Regions from separate parts of the Homo sapiens genome. Here region 1 is linked to region 2. Evidence: fine-mapped expression QTL. A gene starts in region 2. The other region holds a variant in brackets. All regions are shown on one strand. Distances are from middle to middle.

The links. PIP is the estimated chance that this variant, and not a neighbour inherited with it, causes the effect.
Region 1: its variant is the best candidate, but not a certain one, in a credible set for the expression of SIAH2 in sun-exposed skin (GTEx, PIP 0.55).

The regions. Positions count from the first base shown.
Region 1 is chr3:150,733,403-150,744,256 of GRCh38, forward strand. SIAH2 (siah E3 ubiquitin protein ligase 2) reads right to left here. Exons shown (of 2, transcript NM_005067.7): 2 at 7,723-9,296. The coding sequence ends at 8,739. It overlaps LOC101928105 (a long non-coding RNA gene), which reads right to left and starts at 5,583. Exons shown (of 3, transcript NR_121657.1): 1 at 5,449-5,583; 2 at 2,940-3,113; 3 at 1,069-1,462. RefSeq lists a cis regulatory region at 1-595 and a silencer at 7,465-7,544. The variant C/T (reference allele first, on the strand shown) is at 5,437.
Region 2 is chr3:150,757,374-150,768,227 of GRCh38, forward strand. It overlaps SIAH2 (siah E3 ubiquitin protein ligase 2), which reads right to left and starts at 5,796. Exons shown (of 2, transcript NM_005067.7): 1 at 5,060-5,796. The coding sequence starts at 5,476. It overlaps SIAH2-AS1 (SIAH2 and CLRN1 antisense RNA 1), which reads left to right and starts at 4,564. Exons shown (of 3, transcript NR_187306.1): 1 at 4,564-4,607; 2 at 4,966-5,034. It overlaps LOC124909447 (a long non-coding RNA gene), which reads right to left. Exons shown (of 2, transcript XR_007096132.1): 2 at 10,143-10,267. RefSeq lists enhancers at 2,057-2,116, 3,351-3,450, 5,267-6,213, 6,732-6,791 and a silencer at 5,322-6,221.

The DNA.
Region 1 (10,854 bases), 24 kb before region 2:
AGTGTTTCTGGGCTCCCTGGGGAGGGATTAGGACCTGGCAGGGTGGGCGGCAGTGGCTGCTCCCTCCACCCCTAGGGGCCTCTTGCTATCAAGGCTTTTCCTTTGCTAGTGTGCTGACTTTCCAGGGCTGTGTGACTCTGGTGCACACCACTGACTGTCTTTGACTCTCTCAAGAGAATCTGACTGGTGGCTGCTCAGCCAATGAACCGCTGGCCTGGGTAAGGTCTTATCAGCTGTGGCCTGCATTACAAGTTTGTGGGTGTGTGAATTAGTGGGGGGTTTGCATGGGGTGTTCCAGGAACTATGGGCAGGGCAAATTCTCTAGAAGAAGTAGTTTTTATTGTGGACAGGGTTCGTCCTGAAATTTAGCTAGTATGAGGATGGGTTAAAGGATAGATTAGAATTAGGGACCAGACAAGACACTGCTGAACTTTGATATTCACTCGGCACGTTCTACGTGTCTGACCTTGTGTGGGTGTCAGGAACGCGGGAACAAAGGAAGTGTGAGAGAAGAATAGCCCTGAGAAGTGGATGGGAGGTGGACAAGGCTGGACTTAGGCATTGAGTGGTTTGGTCTTGATCCAGGAGAGGCTGATCTCTTGGCACATCCTCCTAACTACCTCAGCCTTGCAAAAACCTACCCAACACCCAAGGCCCAATGCACGCGCTGCTTTCTCCCGGAAGCCTTTTCCAATCCTCTTTTGAACTCCATAGCAATTTGTACGTCCTTGTCTTAACTTGCTTTGCAAACATAGTTGATGTAGTTGTGGTTGCATATTTCATGCTACTGTAAGTTGCCTCTTTGTTTGATGCTTTCAGACTTCTGCTAGACTGTAAAGTCCATATCTGAGTCACTTTTGCAGGCAGCAGGGCTGTTGGAAGGGCTACATTCCTGAGTGTAAATCCCATTTTCACTGCTTACAAGCTGTGTGACTTTGGGCAAGTTACTTAGCCTCTCTGAGCCCCCACCTTCTTGTTTGTTAATGGGAGTGATAATACCCACCTCAAGGTGTTTTGTTTTGAAAATTAAACCATATCAAGGATATAAAGTACAGGACCAAGCACAGGGCAGTTGATTGGTGTGTATTGAATTGAGGAGGAATAACTCGGATCTTGAGGGATGAGCAGCATTAGCATAGTGGGCGAGATAAGGGAAAGGGAAGGGCATGCTCCAAGCTGTTCTCTTCAGTCCCTCCAGGGGAGGGGGCAGCGTGCGGGGCCACACTCTGGACAGGGCAGCTACTCCTCACATTGTCAGCAGAAGCCACTGCAGTTCTAGGACTCAGGCAGCCACACTCTTGTCCAGTGTAATGGAAACTGCCTTCTGAGCTGCATGCACCCTTACTTGATATCAATGTACCAGGGACTCGGATCTGTAACTAGAACAGCACTTACAGCTTGTCTCTCAGGGAAATGGTGTTGGATGGTCCTCAGGAATATTTCTTCCAGGTTTTCATGGAACCTAGAAAAACACCACAGCTTGCTAAGGTGTAAACCTCTCAGATGCCTGGGATGTTCTAGACTGAGCTGCAGCCAGTGCCTTTCTCCTGTTCAGGGCTGGATATGCACAGACGCCCTCACCAGGGCCTTCTAAACATAATTTGCTTCAACCCTTGCTTGTTGGCACAATTTTTTTCCCACCTCTCTCTATTTCAATAATGGCTGCTTCCTGACCATCTCTACTGCATAAGTAAGTAATCTGCCCTGGAAACTTGTCTTTCTGATTACTTTGCCCCCGCTGTGATTGCCTCCTTCTCCACATCATCCATTTCGCTCTCTCTTTTGGATCCTTCCCATTGGCACAGTGCCATGCTCTAGTGGCTCCAATTTTTAAAACACAAAAAAATCTTTCATTGATCCCACTATTCTCCTGCAGCAACTGCTTCATTTCTCTACGTCTTCTCTGCGGAACTTCTTAAAAGCCTTGTCTATAGCAACTTGTCTATAGCTCTATAGCTATAGCTCCTGCCTCCTCTCCTCACCCATGCCCTGTTCTCTCCCTCACCTGCTCTCCTCTGGGCTTCTGTCTTCTCCACTCCATGAGACTGCTCTTGACATCTTGCCATGACCTCGATTGTCTTCTCAGTGGCTAACTCCTCTGTTCTACTTGAGCCAGATTTTTTTCCTGGGGTTCTGTGATGCCGTACTGTCTAGGAGTTCCCCTCATCTTGATGGCCACTTCTTCTATCCACCCTCATTTCCAGGCTCTGGCTCCTCATGTGACCTCTAAAAGGTTGGCAGTCCCAGGAGATAGGCCTGAGTCCCACCCTCTTTTCTGCCTGTATGCACCTCCCTCCATTGCCCAAACCCCGGGGTCTTCTCACTTCCACCCCACAGCTTAAACACCATACATATAGTGATGGTGCACACATTTTGGTATTTCCATCCTGGCCTTTCCTCAGAGCTCCAAGCTCATACAAACAACTGTCTGGTTGATGTCTTCAGCCATGTGTCTCTCTAGATTTCTGCCCTATGCTGGCTCCTTCACTAGTCTCTGCCCCAATACATGGAACTTCTTACCCATTTACTCAGGATGAGAGCCTAGGAGTGATCATCCTTGATTCTCTCTTTTCCTTATTCCTATAATCATCACCCCTCTCCCACCCATCCAACTTTTTAGCAACTCCTGTTAACTCTACCTTGAAAACATAGCCCAAATATGCCCATTTCTGTTAATCTCTACCTTTGCTCACTCTGTCCAAGCCATAATTATCTTTCACTGGGTGAAATGCAATAGCTTCCAAAATGCTTCCATTCCTGCCCTTTATAATCATTGTTTTTGTTGTTTTGTTTTGTTTTAATTGAACAGCTACAGCTCTTTTTAAAAACCCGAATCCCATCATCCATGCTCCTTGAAACTTTCCAGTGGCCTCCCATTGTACCTGGAAAGAAAGCCAGACCCCTAGCTGGCCTCACAGGGCAAGGCTCTAGCTCCTTACCTGCCTCACCTCAAAGCATTTTCCCTGCTGGTTCTGCCTCAGGCCTCTGCACTTGCTGTTCCTTTCTTGCTGCAATGCTTCCCTCCAGGTGGTTTTTACATTCACTTGCATTCCTCAGCCTTCCCTGGTTATTCAATCTACAGTATTGGCAGGTGACATCACTTGTCTCAGCGGCTGTATGAGAAATACAAGAGAAAATGAGGCAGTGAGGTTGGACTGGGTCAGAGGTTCTCAACCCTGACTGTGTGCTGGTCCCTTCTGGGAAGCTTTAAAAAGCACACAGAAGCTCAGCCTTACTGCCAAGAATTCTAACTTAGGTCCTGGCATTCTTTAAAGTTCCCCACATGATTCCAAAGGACGTGTGGGGTGATAACCTTTGATCCAACCAGTGCTTCCCAAACTTGAACATGCATCCACATCACCTGCATACTGTGTTAAAATGCGGATTCTGGTCAGGAGGTCTGGGGTGGAGGCTGAGATGCTGCATTTCTGACAAGTTCCCAGGTGATGCTGATGCCGCTGGTGCACGGACCACACTTTAACTAGTGAGGGTCTGAACGATTTCTAGGTCTCCATCCCCTTCTAGCATGCCATGACAGTGGGGAAGGCAGTTCCAAAGCACAGGTGGTATGTTCTGTATTCACCAAGCATCCTGCACCCCTCCATCTTGTTCATCTTTATCTGTTACAAGTAAGCAATATTTCTGCTGATGGTCAAAATATGTGAAAGCCAAATAAGAATAATGATGGATCACGTGATATGGTGAAGGGGCATGGACTCCACGATGGGTTCATATTCCAATTCTGTTTCTTACCAGCTGTGTGAGTGTAGGCAAATTACTTAATCTCTCTGAGCCTTCATTTCCTCGACTCCAAAATGGGGATAATAAACACTGCTTATTTTATTGAGAGGATTAAATGGGTTAATACAGACAAAGCACTTTGCACACGATAGGTACCTAATGGATGGCAACTGCTGTGATCTTGGTGTACTTTGCAAATTGATCTAATCTTGTAATCCAATTGCTGCAGGTCACAGGAACCTTGATCTGTGCTTGCTGCAAGGATCATCAAACATAGAGCGGAGTCGGCCTTTGATCTGAATGTCAGGTGACTCCATGACATAAGAAATTTCAAGGCACAGAAACTTCAAACCAGCCTTAGTGACCTTGCCTGGAGGATGACAGGGGCAGAGAAACCCTTTGTTTCTTCCCTTCTCTGGATTGTTAGATTATCTCCCCATCTCTGTTCCCTGCCTACTTGCGTAATTTCCCCAGGGACTTTTGGTACAAAACCAGAAAACCTTAACTCTTAAAGTGTTGACTTCAATGCTGCTCTCACACTAGCCTGTTAGTAGTTATTTATTCATTCAGATATTAATTGGGTGCCTAGGTGCCAGGGACTTCATTGTCTCTATTACCCTGCAGGTTGTCAAGGGGAGGCAGGCGCTGAACAATAAAAAAAAATATGTAATCACAATTGTGGTGCCATGAAGGAAAAGAAATAGGGTGCACCGCAAGAGAATATTGAAGAGCTGTGATGCCAATGATTTTCATGTCAAAAGAGCCTCTGCCTATGTGTAGAATACATTGGAGCAGGCAGGAAGAAGGAGGACAAACAGTTAGGAGCCCCAACAGTGGTCCTGGCCCAGATGGTGGCAATGGAAATGGGGAATCAAGACTGGGAGCCACTTCCCTTAGTCATGGTAAAATGTTGGCTTGTACTTTAAGCTGTTTTGTAATTTTTTCCCTTTTACTCAATACAGAAGACACCATGTCATCATCACAGAAAATTCTAATCAGCAGTGTGGTTTGGGGCCAGTGTGTTTCCCTCTGTAGGTCTTACTTGTTTATTCTGTAAAATGGTAGTGGTGGTGGGTGTTGGTGTCAATGGGATCAAGGTTCTTTCTGCTTGTCATTTGAAGACTCCAAGACACATTAACGGTATTCACAAATAAGAGATTTTAAGCTTCAAATTAGAAGAAGGTTTAACAATATGGGGAATTAGATTTCTCCCTTTAAGCACTCTTGCCTCCCTTTCACAGGTCAGTGAAATTATAATCATACTTTCAAGCACAGCCTGCATGAATCAGGAAGGTTCAAGGCCACAGGCCTCTCAAGCCAGAGCCACAAAGCAAAACTGGTCTCTCTACCCAGGCACCACCCCTAGCTCTAAACCATGGGAATCTGAGAGGTAGCTGGAGCATGACTCACCTGCCAACACTGATAGACAGACACATGCTGGGCCACAGTGATACCAGAACCACCTCGTACAAAGGCTGGCAGGAATGATTTACATACCTCAACCTAACATTGAATAGCTTGATTGTCTCACAGAAATTAGTACTAAAGTAAAAACGTTTAGAAAATAAACCTTCAAATGTTGCAGATTAGGAAACTTAAGACCAGAGATGTCAACTGACCAAGTTAAGGTCACATTGCTGGCTATTTGGCAAGCCCCAAGAACCTGAATGAAGTTAGATACAAGGAGAATTTCTT[C/T]AGGAAAATTACTTTGGGTGGTATTGTAAAGGAGTTGCTTGATGCTGCTAAAAAAGACACTCAGCCATTAGTTTGGATGTGTCAGTTGAGGCCGAGGTTCTAGTTGGCAGAGTTCCAAGATAGTTGATGCTTCGGTGCCTCTTCTCCGAAGTATTTCCCATAATCCCCTGGACAGTTCCCTCTAAGAACTCCACTGTCTCAATCCTTTAAGTCTTCTGGATTCAGGGAAACCAAGACCAGTTCCTCCTTACAAGAACGCTGGGAACCCCTAATCTCAAGGTTGGTTGGTTTTTTGAAAAAAATTAAAAACGTAGAACAATGCAATTAATAATATACCATATACCCAGGTTCTAGGCACCCAGAATTAATGACTGTTAACATTTTCTCCCAAGGTATTTTGAGAACCCTTTTTTCTTTAGAATGACTCATGCGTCATAAGACACAGGCTTAATCTACCATCGTTTAATCGCCAGATTACCAAATTAGAATATTGAACTAGGACAGGAAAGATAAAATATTCTTATTTTATTTTTTAAAATATGGTACTTAAGTGGACCACGTGATGAGTTTTGACAAATGCCTATCATTACTTTTCTTTTTTTTTCTCACTTTTTTTAAAAGCAACAAGTCAAGGAATATACTCATCATGTTTTAAATTGCATTTGCAATTGGAACTGCATAAAAAGGCATTTTAATTTACATAATCTTTTTCTGCTGTTTTCACTTCCTGTTAAAACGGAATAACCTGGGGATTTTTATTTTCTGGTAGAAAATGCACAGTTTCAAGAAAGTCAAGAGTAAAGGTTAAGTTTACAGATTTCCAGTGACAGAGATGAAAGGGAACTACGTAACTCTGGAAAATAAAAGTTCAGAGTTGCGTTGCTTACAACTTTTTCATTTGTTAAGTTCTAGGAGCAAGTTTGAATGGGGAATCAAGAAGCCTGAATTATAGAACCAGTGCTGCCAGTAATGCACTGTGTGGCTGCTGGCCCATCACTTTACCTTTTTGGGCTAAAACTCTTTTTGTGCTTTTGGAATAACTTGTGTCCACTTTCTCCTTCTTTATGTCTTTTGTTTATAGGTTTGCGTTTTATGCACTGTTAACCAATCAGTCCTGATTCCTCTACCACACGTAGTAAGAGGGTAAGCCGTGGACATGAAGTGATGCTGCCAAGCTTGGCTAGTGTATGCACACTGCACCTTGCATGGGTGCCGTGAGGGCCCTGGAGGCCATATCTGGACTGGCTCTGGTCCTGAGGGTCAGAGTTCATCTGCTCCTGGATCCTAGTTTCACCTTCATAGGTTCCTCTGTATATGGACTTGAAATGTGACTTTCTTAGTGATAAGAGTTGTGGTTTTTATTCATTCACCACAGATGTTGTAAACCCCTACTTTTGTGTAGGGCACCGTTTTTCACTTTTACAGAAGAGGTTACTTTAGCAATTCTTTAAATGTCAGAGCCCTGTGCTGGCTAAAAACTCAACGCTGTATCTCACTTAAAAAACAAAATCAACTCCAAAGCCATCACCTCCATTTGGTAGTATGCTAATGAAATTGGGACACTGAGGGCTGGGTGTGGTGGCTCATGCCTTAATCCCAGCACTTTGGGAGGCCGAGGCAAGTGGATCACTTGAGGTCAGGAGTTCGAGACCAGTCTGGCCTCATCTCTACTAAAAATACAAAGATTAGCTGGGTGTGGTGGCATAGGCCTCTAGTCCCACTTACTTGGGAGGCTGAGGCAGGAGAATTGTTTGAACCTAGAGGCAGAGATTGCAGTGAGTGCCATTGCACTCCAGCCTCTGTCTCAAAAAAAAAAAAAAAAAAAAAGAAAGAAATTGGGACACTGAGGTAAGCAGCCTTCAATCCTTGCTGAGCATTTGGCCCTAATCCTCTAAATTCTTTTGAGAGTTTAGGGTTGGGACTGAGGGAGTGGGTCAGCTTGGATCAACGCCAGCACTCTGGATGTCAGCAGTGGCCAAGCGTCTTCCTTCTGACTCTGTAAAGCTGGAGCAATCCTCTTATTGCACAGGTACTGGCACTGTCAGATAGAAACGACAGCCCTGGGAGGAGACCTGCAGCACTGACAGTCAGTGGTTCAGACACATGAGCCCGGACCCCAGTGCTGTCATGGACCCGTGCCATGACCTTGGCCCAATGACTGTTTCCACAGTGGAAACAAACAGTGAAAGTTCCAACCCCAGATGTAGTGACGAAGGTTCATTGCACTTGCACACAGTAGATGCTCAATAAATACCCATTACTCAATTAGGGAAATGAAGCACAATATCCATTTTTGGAAAATATTTATTAAAAAACTAGTGAATGTGGCAGAAAAACAAAACCAACACACAGCTTTAAATAGCAAGCATATGACACACCGGTTATAAAGCTTTTCCAACTCTACTGATTTAGTCTTTCACACCAGCTACTGTTGAGGAGGGCTTCCGAGGGAAGCCACGTGTAAACGGGTCATCTGTACTAGTGGTGAGCAAAACTAATTACATGAGAACTATCAATGGCCATATGACTTGCTTTCCTAGGCAATCCACCCAAAACATAGGTGAGTGGCCAAATCTCAGGCGTGCGTTCATGTGGATCTATAGTTCTAGTTTTAATTTGAGGGTTGGGGGAAGTTAGGGGATGAAACAGTAGAAAGACAAACAGTATCGGCAGAGGGCAACCTTAAAGCACCTTTAAAATCTGGACCCTTTCCCACAATTTAACCCAGTAATTCTCAAACATTACTGTTGAAAAGAATCACCTGATGAGACTGTTAAATTGGCAGGCTCCCTAAATCTGCAATTTTAAGATAAGCACTCCGGGTGATTCAGTGTCTATTAGCCAGCCATCCAATTTCAGAAACACTGTTTAAAATGCATTAAAACAATTCCTACCTCCCACAAACAAAAGTAAAGGAATCTGCTGACAGTCACTGTGCTTTTGTCAATGTCAAGGGACCAATATGGGAAGGCAGGCAGGAAGGGGCCTCCCATTCCTAACACACTGATCTATAGAAGCCCTGTGCAACAGCCTGTCAAGTGTTGTTTAGGGAGTAAATACAATTCAATAAGAGTTGTTTTAGATCACAGAACAGCATCCAAATCACCAACAGGCCAACCCCATTCATCCCAGGTTAATGAACTTTGTTGGGTCGAAGCCAGATGGGACACTGCTGTTCAAACAAAACACGGGTAATTGTGGGTCCTGACTTGTGAAGACATATGGAATAAAACATCTATAAAAACCTTTATTAAACATAGAGCACTATGCCCAAATAATTTTGAAGGTTTACGAAAGTCACATCATGGACAACATGTAGAAATAGTAACATTGATTCCAAGGTTCCCATTATCTGCAAAAAGATGTGCTATGGCTGTGTCGAAAACAAGGCAGTCGCTGTTCATGATGGCCGCAGCCACACCGTCATGAATCGAACGGGGCGTGGCCTCCCAGGTCAATCTCCGCCGGTTCCCATTCAACTCCAGTCTGTAGGCAAAGTTCTCGGCTTGCTTGCGGGTGCCAATGAGCAGGACGATGGCAAAAAACTGCTGGTGGCCTTCGTACTTCTCTTGTTTCTCCAGCACCAGCATGAAGTGATGGCCAAAACATGACTGCATCATCACCCAGTCGACAGCCCCTGGCAAGTTAATGTCTGTAGCTAGAAAGACGATGTCTTCTCCCTGAAGGGTGGTAATGCTCTTGTGGGCGTGCATGAGATGGGACATCACAGCTTCCAGGGACCCCTGCCACTTGCAGGAAGCACCAGGACATGGGCAGGAGTAGGGACGGTATTCACATATGTCTTCATGTTCTGGTTTCTCCGTATGGTGCAGGGTCAGGGAACAGCCCGTGGTGGCATACTGCAAAGAAAGAAATGCATTGAGCCATTGGGCCTTCTCAAAACTTCTATTGCTTCAACCCTCTATGAGTACTTAACTACTCCATTTTCCTGGGCTTAAACTGTGTTCTTAACTACTTTTGCTCAAAGCAAGTGAAATATTCAAGACTAAAAGTCTCCGTCTCTATTCATCATCAATGCTGTCATGCATAAAATGAAGGGTATTTCCTGAACCAGAAATACGCTGTTTTCCATGCCCCCTGTTCCGCTGTCAAAGGGATCAGAACTAAAGTTCTCTTACTGTGCACATCTCAAAATTGTTGAGCAAGCCCTATAAAAGCTGGTCTTCCCCATATTTTCTGTGAAGCTGTTTTTTAAAGAATTCAATTGCTTGGGTGGTGGGGATGGGGTTGGGCAAGGAATATTATATTATCCCAAGATTAGTTTTCACATATAGACAATATTAACAACAGTATAATTCTGTCGTCCCCCTCCACTGCTTTCTGGCTCAAACTGGTGACTGGCAGGCAGGCCGTGGGGAAGGCTGCCCTTTGGTTCCTTGCTCTTTGCTGCTGGCATCACCAGGCTAGGGCAGCGGAGGCCTGGAGACCCCTTCATACAGCTAGAAATATTACCCCACTGCATCCTTTTGACCTTCCCTCTGGGGGGCTTTGCCCATATTTTTTGGGTGGAAGGAAATCACATCCAAGAGCTACTTAACTAACTCAGAAGACTACTGGTCAGTCTGGTTCTGGCCAGTAGAGGTTAACATGAGAAGGGCCTAACCCTCCTCTCAAAGCTTGCTGACCCCCAACACTTCCTCAGATTCAAGAGCACATCATTTCATGGTCAGGTATGTCAGGTCCTCACAACAGGCCCGGGAGGAAGCAGAACTAGACAAGTTTGCTGACATGATCAGTCTGCCCCTCAGACACTGCCTTAATAGGGTAGGAGAACAAAATCATTTTCTCCCTTGCACTTGGGATGACATTCCTAATGGATAAATCATACCTGCCGTGGCAAAAGACCACACCAAGAGGAACTGAACTTCTACTCCAGACTCTCACAAGGATGACAGTGTTAATTCCTAGATACCAGATGGAGATCAGCCCACAAGTAGACACCTGCCCTGAGTACTAAGCTGTTCTGTAAAGAATTAAGAAACCTGAATCACCTTTTCAGGTGAAACTAGGTGTCAGCCTTAGACCCCTGGAGCACAGAATGGCAGGGGAACTGTCTGGCTAACTACACTTGGATTCCCCTGCTCCACTGAGACATGAAGGCACCAAATAAGGGCAAGGCCAGGTCATTTTTCTAAGATGCTATGTCCAGTTGCTAAAAAAAAAAAAAAGCACCACTGCTGTTTTTGCTTCTCTCTACCCTGCTTTATAGAATAATCCCCCTTTTAAACTTGAAGTCGGTCAAATTCTAACCTTCATAGATGAATTTATCACTAGCAACAAGCAGATGGTATGCACTATGTGACTTCTCCATACAAGACGCTAAGTTACAGTCACTCAGAGGATTCCGAAGCAAGGATGACAGCCTCCACTCTCAGGGGGATTAGTCTCCCCTAATCG
Region 2 (10,854 bases):
TCACAAGGCCATCATCTGAGGGTTCCTGATGGCCAGAAAATAATATTCTCTTGGCAAAATGAAGATGAAAAGAAAACAAGCTACAAAATCACCAACAGTTAGGGCCTAACAGAGTTCCAAAGTTCATGTATGGCAAGAGTTAAATGAGAACTTCCAGGCTCAAGGAATGCTTCTACAAGAGAATCAGATCAGAGGCTGCATGCTGGCAGCTGGAATTTGGCCTGGAGACGTGGTGGTTCGCTTTGTCTGCAAGTGGTGGTTATACATGTGAAGTCAGCCAATGCTAGAAAAAAAATCGAGATATTTAACATAAAAAAAAAATCCAGGCTGGGCACGGTGGCTCACACTTGTAATCCCAGCACTTTGGGGGGCCGAGATAGGAGGATTGCTTGAGCTCAGGAGTATCAAGACCAGCCTGGGCAACATAGTGAGATGACATCTCTTAAAGGAAAAAAAAAAGATCCAGATTTCTGGCTTTTCTTGAAAAAAATCTAAAGGTCTGATATGCCTGTACCCACATCCCCAACCCCACCAATCAGCCAGAGGTGAGTAAAGGCTGCCTCTTGGGAGGTGGCACCTGTTCTCTGGCTCTCCACCATCTCCACTGCTCCTCCAGGTCTCCCTGACCCTGAGGCCATGAGTGCATCAAATACTTCTCTCCTCTCCTCTCCTCTCATTACATGGCCCTCCTCCCATTTAGAAAGTTTGTCTCCACTGAACTAGATGAGGCCAAGGGATTTTAAACTTTCAACTGTTTTGTCTAACCTTACTTGGTTTTATGTTATTTTTTATTTTTTTAAGGAACACAGACATTGTCACAATTCAACCACAGAGAAGACTTGTCCAGCTGAGGCTTTCAAATTCAATAATTATTTGGAGATATGCTACTAGAAACTTTCAGAGAGGACAAAGAAAAGGTATCATTACAGTGTAAGAAGGCTGGAGTGGATTAGCATTGCTCACAGTTGTAGAGAGAAATACTTGGCTGATATCAAAATACATCGTTGGATGGTAAAGTAGACTATGTTGTTGATATGAATGTGTCAACCTTCACTTCTCCCCCTAAACCCACACACTGAAGGGGTGAGTTTAAGTCTGGGCACAGGATGTCAAAAGTTCTCAGGCATGGAACAAGCCACAGAATGGATTAAAAAATACCCCAAGCGGAAGAAAGCCATACACTATTAGACATTCCATTTTTTTTTTTTTTTTTTTGACACAGAGTCTTGCTCTGTCACCCAGGCTGGAGTGCAGTGGCACAATCTCAGCTCACTGCAACCTCCACCTCCTGGGTTCAAGCGATTCTCCTGCCGCAGCCTCCTGAGTAGCTGGGATTACAGGTGCCTGCCACCACACCTGGCTATTTTTTTTTTTTTTTTTTTTAATGAGACTGAGTTTCACTCTTGTTGCCCAGGCTGGAATGCAATGACGTGATCTTGGCTCACTGCAACCTCTGCCTCCCGGGTTCAAGCAATTCTCCTGCCTCAGTCTCCTGAGTAGCTGATATTACAGGCATGTGCCACCATGCCCAGCTAACTTTTTTGTATTTTTAGTAGAAACGGGGTTTCTCCATGTTGGTCAGGCTGGTCTCAAACTCCTGACCTCAGGTGATCCACCCACCTCAGCCTCCCAAAGTGCTGGGATTACAGACGTGAGCCACTGCGCCTGGCCCTAATTTTTGTATTTTTAGTAGAGACAGGGTTTCACTATGTTGTCCAGGCTGGTCTCGAACTCCTGACCTCAGGTGATCTGCTCACCTCTGCCTCCCAAAGTGCTGGGATTACAGGCATGAGTCACCACACCCAAAGATCTGAGCTAATAATGCATCCGGTTCCCCATATCAAAGGTGCTGGCAACACTCTAGCCTTTAATTAATTACCCTAAACCTAAGTGGGATAGTTATTTGGCAATACATCCATTTTTTTGCCAACTGAAGCAGTCCAGAGCTGTGATGATACCCCACAAAATACTAGGTTTGTAGGTTTCCCCCACCCTCCCATCTTCCTACCCTACATGCCCTACAAAATTCCTGCCAATGAATTTCATAGTGAGTATGTATGTTGTCATTTTGGGATGGTCCCATAAGAGGCCCATCTGGTGAACTCATCCAACCAGACGGTTTTGTTACTGGTGTCAACCTTGAGTTATGATTCAGAATCTTGAGTATACACTCAGATTCGAAATCCCTACGTAGTAAGGTGTAGGACAAAACATCTGTGCCTTTGAGATGCAGGTGCTTGGACTGGTCCTCTTACTAGCTGTGTGATTTGACAAGTCACTTCACATTTAACCACTCTGTAGGCATGAGTTTCCTCATCTGAAAAAAAAAAAAGGCAAACTAGTAAAAGCTGACCCCTGCAAAGTAACTGGCAGATAGAGGGCATCCAATAACATTCCAGATAGCCTCCCTTCTTTTCATAGAATGCTAGAAGCTACAGGTCCTTAGAAGTCAAGCAGATTCATCTCTCATTTGTATAGATGAGGAAATCAAGGCCCTGGGAGGTGGTCTTTCAGGCAAACAGTGGCAGCTCTTGAGATGTGGGCTCTGGTACTTTATTCAACGTTGGTTTTTTTCACATGAGCCAGCCCATGAGAGATTCTGAGAGCAGGTGGGGACAGTAAAAAGGCAGTCCCATAATTTCTAGGAGCCTCAAACTGTAGGCCAAAGGGCTAGGTAAACAGATCTGCCTTGTTTTAAGTTTGATACAGGCCTTACGGCTCTCTGTTGTTTCTCATCCTCTACAACTAACACATCTTGGTTGGTCGCTGGGCCTATGTATACATTCAAGTTTGGTTTATCCAGACTAACTGGCTGAGCTGCCCTGCCAATAGTTTGGATTATTGATCAACCAAAGGTGAGGGACACACACCCCAGCTTTATACAACTCACACACATGCACACACAAAAGCATCCCCAAGATCACATCCTAAGCTTGGTTCTTGGTCTGCAGGGGAATAATTGGCCCTTTTAAATTTCAGCTTGCAAAGTAATAGCTTTACCCCACTGCATTCTTATAGAATAGAGACTCAGAAAACCACTGACATGTACAGAAAGGCTGAGAACCCCTGATTCCCAGAACTACTCTTCAAGGTTGATTTCAGTAGCCTGTTTCACGTTAGGAAAGAACGTATGCTTTCATAGGAACCAGAGTTCTAGATCCTGAAAGTGAAACTTCATGCTCCATATAGCATAACTGTTTCCTTCCCTTTCTCTTGGGAACAACACAATTCTATTATGGTTACATTTTAAAAACAAATTATGGATTACTGACTAATATCAAATGCTCATTTGTGAACTAAAACTCACCTAAAAGCCATTTCTTTTGTTAGCCGCTGCGCGTTTAAGGGAAAGTAAAGGGGTGAGAAAATGGCTCCCCAGAAATCCTATGGGGCATCCCCCACCCCTGCAATATATCTCAAGCATCAAATAGCCACTCTATGTTAACTACCACCAAACCTTTTCCAACCACTAGGTTGTCACCTTTTTCACAACCCTAAGACAACTATGCAAATACTTTATCTAAATTTTGAGAAACTGGGCTGAGTGAATTAGTAAGCACTATATGAGGAGGGGTTAACAGCAATTTATTAAGGTTGCCTGAAACACCCTAGTCCAAACACCGATTCAAACTCTTATTTAAATATGCTATTTTAAACCTGATTTGCAGCAGGGCAGCAGACCAAATTAAAGCACTCATTTTACTGACCTGAGTCCCAAGCCTGAATTCTCTGGTGGATTATTTTTAATTTAAAAATGAGCTCTTGTCCTATAAAATAAGCAGCACCAAGGAGAAATGCAAGACAGCTTAAATGGCCCAAGAGGCAGCGCAAGTTACTTTTACAAAAAAACTGGAAAGTATTAGTGACATTATCTCCACTTCTAATTTCAGAAAATGACTTTACAGTATACTTCTAGGTTATAACGTAGACAAGTATGTCTGTGAAACTGCTCCTGAAGGTTTCCACGTAATAGCTGCAGGTAAACAAATGTTATAATATGACCACACAATGCAATACTATGCAGCCATTTAAAATACAATGAAGTCGACTAGGTTTCAGGCATAGAGAAATATGTGTGATAATATGAATTTAAGAACAGCAAGTTGCAGATGCCATTTTTGGAGAAAAACTTACATCTATGTGTGGGTATTAAAAAACCTCCCTGACATACACTGACATCTATGATTCTATATTTAGCTGCGAGGGTGTATGTATATATAGTTTAAAAAGATACACACTAAACCTAACAATGGTGGGAAAGGAGGGGAGAGATCTTGGTCTTTCATTTTACTTCTTGTCTTGGTGGCTTGCATTTTTCGCAAGGGCATTGAAAACTTTTTACATTAAATAAAAAATGAAGTGATGAGCTTTAAACAACTGTAACAACAGCTCTTGAGTGCCCTTGTTAATTTCTTGATTGACTGTTTTCACCCCACTTAGTACAACAACGCAGCCACAACTCCTCAGTCCTTCCCAGTCTTTGGAAGGCTAGGAGAGAAAAAGGCGTGGCTTGCAGGGTTTTCTTCTAGCTAGAGGAAAACAGGCTGTAGGCGCCCTTTTTTTAGCTACAATCCCGAGAGCTCCCACGTGTCAGGGGTGCGCAGACGGTAGGCGCGGGGTGCAGGACTCCAATTATCAATTCAGCCGAGCCCAGCGCTGGTAAAGGGGGCGTTTAGCTCGCCCGTTTCCTCCCTCCTCAATCCCCACACAGTCAGTTTCTCGGTCCAAGTTTTACTGGTGCGGCCCAGCCCTACCGAGAGTACCCGAATACACGTCTGCAGAGGACGCGGGCATTGGGCCGGGTGAGCTACGATGTTCTAACGATCAGCAAATGCCAATTAATCTGTTAATTGTCTATTAACAATTATTACTCGGTAAATGTCAACCCAGACCTACACCCAAAGTGGGCTTGAGGGAGGGTGGACGAAGTGTAAACATTTTTTCTTTTTTTTTTTTAAATGAGAGATGCCGCCCGCCTCTCCGGGCCTGCGAGTGGGCTGGCGGATACCGGAGTCCCTGAGGTCACCGGCGGAGGTACGTGGGCTGTCCCTGGGCTTACCTTACAGGGAAACAGGACTGCCGAGGCCACCTTCTCCATAGCCAGGTTCCTGATGCTGGGCGTCAGGGCGCCCCTGCACGTCGGGCAGCAGCTCAACTTCTGGCGGCATTGGTTACACACCAGGTGCCCGGCCTGGCACTGCAGAATAGGAGGCAGGACATAGTCAAAGCAGACCGGACACTCGAAGAGCGAGGTCAGCTCGTGGTGCTGCGGGGACACCGGGCCGGCCCCGCCGCCGCCGCCGGGGCCCGAGATCACCGCCGCCGCGGCGGGCACCGCGGACGAGCCGGGGCCCGCAGCCGAGATGGTGGCGGCGGCCGGGGGCGCAGCCGGGGACGGAGTGTGCTGGGGCTGCGGCGGCGGCTGCTTGCTGCAGGGTTTATTAGCGCTGGGGCCGGTGGAGGACGGGCGGCTCATCGCGCTCCGAACCAACCATGGAACTGCGGGCGCCTGCCTGCCGCGGGGCCGCCCGGGTCAAGGCGGTGCGCGCCCCGCGGGCAGCGAGCTCCGAGGCAACGCCACGGCGCCCAGCCCAGGTCCGGGCGGCGGAGACGCTCGGCGCCCGGCAGGCGGAGGGCTGGACCGCGCTGATGCACTCCGCAGCCCCCGGCGTTCCGAGCACGCCTCCGCGTCGGACCCCGCGCGGTGCCCTCCTCCCGGCGGCGTCCCGGGCCCCGAACCCCAGCGGTGCGCAGAGCCCTGGCCCACCCGCTTCTGGAACAGCCGCTGACGCAAGCCCCGGGGGCGCGCGCGGACGTGACGCCTGGACACGTGTGCGGCCGCCCAGGCGCGCGGGGACTGGCAGAGCCACCCTGCGCCGGGGCGCTGGCTCCGCCCGGCTCCAGCTGGCAGCGCAGGGGGCCGCCTAGCGCCGGCGCTTCCTGCTCGGGCTGCGGGCCGGGCCTGCGCCAGTGAGCATGCCTGGCTCGCTGCAGCCCCGCGGGGTTGTCTTTTCTGGGTTGAGGAGGGGGGCTACTCTCGGGGAAGCGTCGCCGAAGTCCTCTGGCCACACCCCGGGGTGCCTGGCTGACGCGTCCCTCAGCTCAAACGAGAAAGGCAACTTCAGGCGGGGCGGGAGCGTGGACGGTGGGTGGGACCGGACGCGGGCGGGCAGGGGCGGGGCGCGGGCGCCCCTGCACTAGTCGGAAAAAACCGAGAGGTTTCTCTTCTCAGGGCTGAGTCACCAGCACGCAGGAGAAGAGGGCGAAGCGGCCACCCGCGTTCTGTGTTCGGAGTCAGGACGAGAAGCATTGGGTGGGAGCAGGGCGAGGGGCTCGAGTTGGGTCTGCAGCGGGCACAGGACCTAGTTTTGTACAGTTAACGGTGGGGTTGAGTAAAGAGGGGGGCGGTGGGGAGGATGTAAGCTCCCTTTATTCCTTTCCCAGCGGACCAGGAGGAAGCTTCGTTGAATTGAGCGCCCCTGGCTCGTATAGCAGGCCGAGGAGGGAGCTCATGGGCAGCGTTGGCTAAGAGTTCGAGATCATCTAGAAATGTCAGAAACGTAGGTTGGGTCGTGAGGTCTCTGAAGACAGTGGGTGAAACTCCAGTGTAAGGCGCTGCGTCCGCTTGGTAGAGAGCCGGCCGAAGTCCGAGTCTTTGTTGCGAGGCGTAGGGCCACCCTGCGCGCCCAGCAGAAGCGCTAGAGGGCACGGTTGCCCGGGGTGAACCGCATGTCCAAATGTAACTGTGTGCTCCGAGTTAAAATTGTTTTTCTGCAGACTTTGCTTGAGCCAACGATTCCGGAATTGGGGAAAGGGTTACCTTAGGTAGAAATCGGAAATTTATAGGAGACACAGAGGTAAGGACCAACTGTTAGGACTGAGTGAAAAATGGTTCCCTCCAACTGTAAAAGTGGAAAAAAAAATACCTATCTTATAGGTGGGGCAGTGAGGAGTAAATGAGTTTAATATATTTCAAGCTTTTAAAACAACCTCGCCCATCATAAGCACTGTTTAAACATTAGCTCTTATCTTTTAAAAATATTAGTGGATGTTTAAAATGAATGAATACAATTTGTCCAAGAAATATGGCGTAAGAGCCCAGAAGAAATAAAGTTTAATCTTACAAAGGGCTTCTGTAGAAAGAATACATGCATGGAATTGATGGAATTTGGTATAAATCTTGAAAAAACTTAATAGGTGTATTCAATCGTTCAGTAAATGTTTCCTGAGCATTTATCATGTGTCAGCTACTGTTGGAGCTCTGAGAATGGTTCTCATGCAGTTTACATTCTAGTAAGAGAGCAAGGCCCAATAACCAAGCACTCGTGGGAGAAGAAGGATTTCAGATACCACGGGGTGGGCAGGCATTATAGCAGGAGCTAAAAAGCACAGAGTGAAAGCATGTATTCTGGGATTGCATTGGGACTTGGAGGGGATATAACGGGAGTGTAGGGGTGTGGCGTTAGCACAAGGGGAGCCTCAACTGGCTTAATAAGACATTTACCTCAATGATAGGGGTAAACCACTGTAGGGTTTTGTTTGTTTTTTTAAGAACACACAACAACACTAGGTTTTGTAGGTTTTTGGAAGCTCTTTAGTAACATGGCTGAACCTGAGTTTTTGGATAGGTAGGGAGCATAAAATAATAACTAATGTTAATTGAGTGCCCACTGTATGTTGGGCATGGATAGTTTTAAGTATTTATCATAACTCTCTGTGATGAATACTACTGTTATCTCCATTTTACAGTTGAGGAAACCGAGACATAGGTTACTTTGCTCAAGATCACACAGCTGAGAATGTGGGAACACGCTAGGAGCCCTTCTTAACTACTAGTCTGTATGCCTCTAAATTATGCCTGATTCCTACTTACAGTCTTGTTAAACAGTTAAGATTAGCACACTCAACAGAGTCAGAAAACAGTTGTTCAGCCTATAATAAAGCACTAAATTTTGTGGGCAAACTTTACATAAACTCTTTCCTTAGCTGGTCTAGAGAGAAAAATTAAATCATGTTCTATTTATTTCATTTTCACCTTTTTATGACACAAAATATAAGTGATAACACAAAAATCACCTACTGTTTTACTGTTATTGGAGGAAATGTAATATTTTTCATTCTTAATTTAAAATCAAAGCATTTGGAATTTATTAATGGAACACATTTTCTTTCCTTCCACTTCTAGCCTCTCTGTGTGATGACCTCCATCCCCACGGCTTCTTACTAGCTCTCATTAGGAGACTGGAGTCCTCACCCTTGCCCCATTGACACGAGCTTTAAGTGTTCCAGCTAGATAGGCCCTGGTCATTCAGAAAACAATTTGGTTTGGGAGGTGTTGAAAGAAATAACAGGAAAAGCAATTCTCTGCAGAGAGAATTTGGTTTATTTTTCTAAAAATACAGCGAACCCATCCACTCTTACCCTGGCAGATGCCTCCCCTGGTATAGAGAAATTTCTTCTTTCTTCCTCCTTCACATCATTGCACACCTGATTAAGTCAACCAGGGTAATTAAAATACAAAAGCAAAACAAAAAAACTCTGGGCAGTTGCTGAAGGTAGGCAGGGGGAGAGTGGATAGGTCTGCTATGTGAGCCACATCAATGACCAGGCTGGTCTTCCCAGTCGCCTTTCTTCTTCCTCCTTCCTTGGTGACTTTTGAAACAAAGAAAGGTGACCTTTGCATACCGGGCACTATGAGCTAGAGCCTCCTCTTCCAGCGGGCAGTCCGCTCAGAGGTCGAATTTAGCGTGTACTCAAAATGTGTGCTGAGTTGAGTTGTTGGGAGGTTTATTTACCCTTTGGAGTGTCGCTGCTGCTTCTTGGCCTGTTTAGTGAGTGACTTTGTGGTCTGGGGGAGCAGGGTCCAGCCTTTTGTTATCTCCTGATTCATGACTCATTTACCACATCTACTGTATGAGAGGTTGGTCTCATTCGCCCACCTACTGAGTCCCAGATTGCATATGTCAAGCAGGACACCTCTCCTTAACCCATCTGCTCTATGCTAAGCTTGAAAGACTAGGGGTGTACTGAGTAGCCTTTTCTTTCCTTAAAATAGCAGGGTGAGTCTTAAAAAAAACACCTCACAGGTGAGTTCCTAATTTCACTAAACTGCTGAGCACAGTGAGAAATGCTCCAGCTAGGCAGACAAGCTCTTGCCCTTTTTTCTGTAACTTACAAATTGTGTGGTTTTGCAAATCAGGCAACTTCTGCCATCAGGCAAATGTGCATTTGCAGAGCAAATTGTGGTTGGCTTTTTAGAGATGACTCAGGTATGCATTGGAGCTTGCTGCATGGAAATTCCTCATCAGGGGAAGCTTGTGGGAAATCTGGAGGTGATGTAAGGCCCCCTGGTAATTATAGTAGGAACTTTTAACTTCATCTGTTTCTGGGGTAATTTCCAAATGCTCAAACTTCTTTTGAATAATTGTAGGTCTCTTAATTCAAATCTTTTTTTTTTTTTTTGAGACAGGGTCTCACTCTGTCACCTAGGCTTAATGCAGTGGCTGGATCATGGCTGACTGCAGCCTCAACCTCCCAGGCTCAAAGGATCCTCCTGAGTAGCTGGGACTACAGGCACGTGCCATCACGCCCTGCTAGTTTTTTAGTTTTTGTAGAGAAGAGGTCTCACTGTGTTGCCGAGGCTGGCCTCAAACTCCTATACTCAAGTACTCCTAATTCAAGCATTTTTTTGAACAACCATCATGGACTTAGCACTGTGTACTAAGAGCAGTTCTATGTATTTGCATTATTTTTGTATCCACACTTAGCTAATTAGTGCTCACCCTGTACCAGGGAGTGTTCCAAGTACTTTACATATTTTAATTCTCTTAATTCTCACAATGTCTTTTATAGGGTAGATCTTTATAGATGACAAAACAGGTACAGAGAGGCCAAGAGAGTTGTAGGAAGTCATCATTAAGAAGGCTCCCAGGGATCCCTCCTCCTGGTGTCGCCCAATATGTAACACCTTTCCTGTGAATGAGGGCTGATCCTGCTTTAAGTGAACAGAATATGGTCAAAGTGATAGAATGTCACTTCTGAGATTAGGTTAAAAAAGACTATGAATTCTGTCTTACTGTCCCTCCGTTCCTCTCGCTTGCTGTCTTAGCTCGAGCTGCTATAATAAAATATCATAAACTGGGTGGTTTAAATAACAAACATTTATTTCTCACAGTTGTGGAGGACGGGGAGACCAAGGTCAAGGTGCCACAGGTGTCTAGCGATGGCTTGCTTCCTGGTTTGTAGATGGCAGCCTTCTCACTGTGTCCTTACGTAGCAGAGATAGGAAGGAAGCTCCCTCAGGACTCTTCTAAGGATACCAACCCTCTCCATGAGGGCTACACCCTTAGCACCTCCTGTAATCCTGATTACCTCCCAAAGACCCTGCCTGCTAATATCATCACATTAGGGAGTACAGTTTCAATATGTGAATTTTGAGGGGACACAAGTATTCAGTCTGTAACACTCTCTGAGCCCTCTCTGTGGATGAAGCCAGCTACCATGTTGGGAGTAGCTCTGCTAAACGGTCCACGTGGCAAGGAACTGATGTCTCTGGCCAACAGCTAGTGAGAACCCTGGGCTTGCCAACAGTGAGTGAGTTTGGAAGTGGATTCTCTCAGCCGAGCCTTGTGATGATTGCAACCCTGGCTCACAAGTGATTGTGCCTGTGACACCTTGAACTAGAGGACTCAGCTGAGTTGAACACAGAAACTGTGAGATAATGAATATGTGCTGTTTTTATTTTTATCTTTATTTTTAGAGATAGGGTCTTACTATGTTGCCCAGGCTGGAGTGCGGTGGCCATTCTCAGACACAATCATAGTGCATTACAGCCTGGAACTCCCAGGCTGAAGC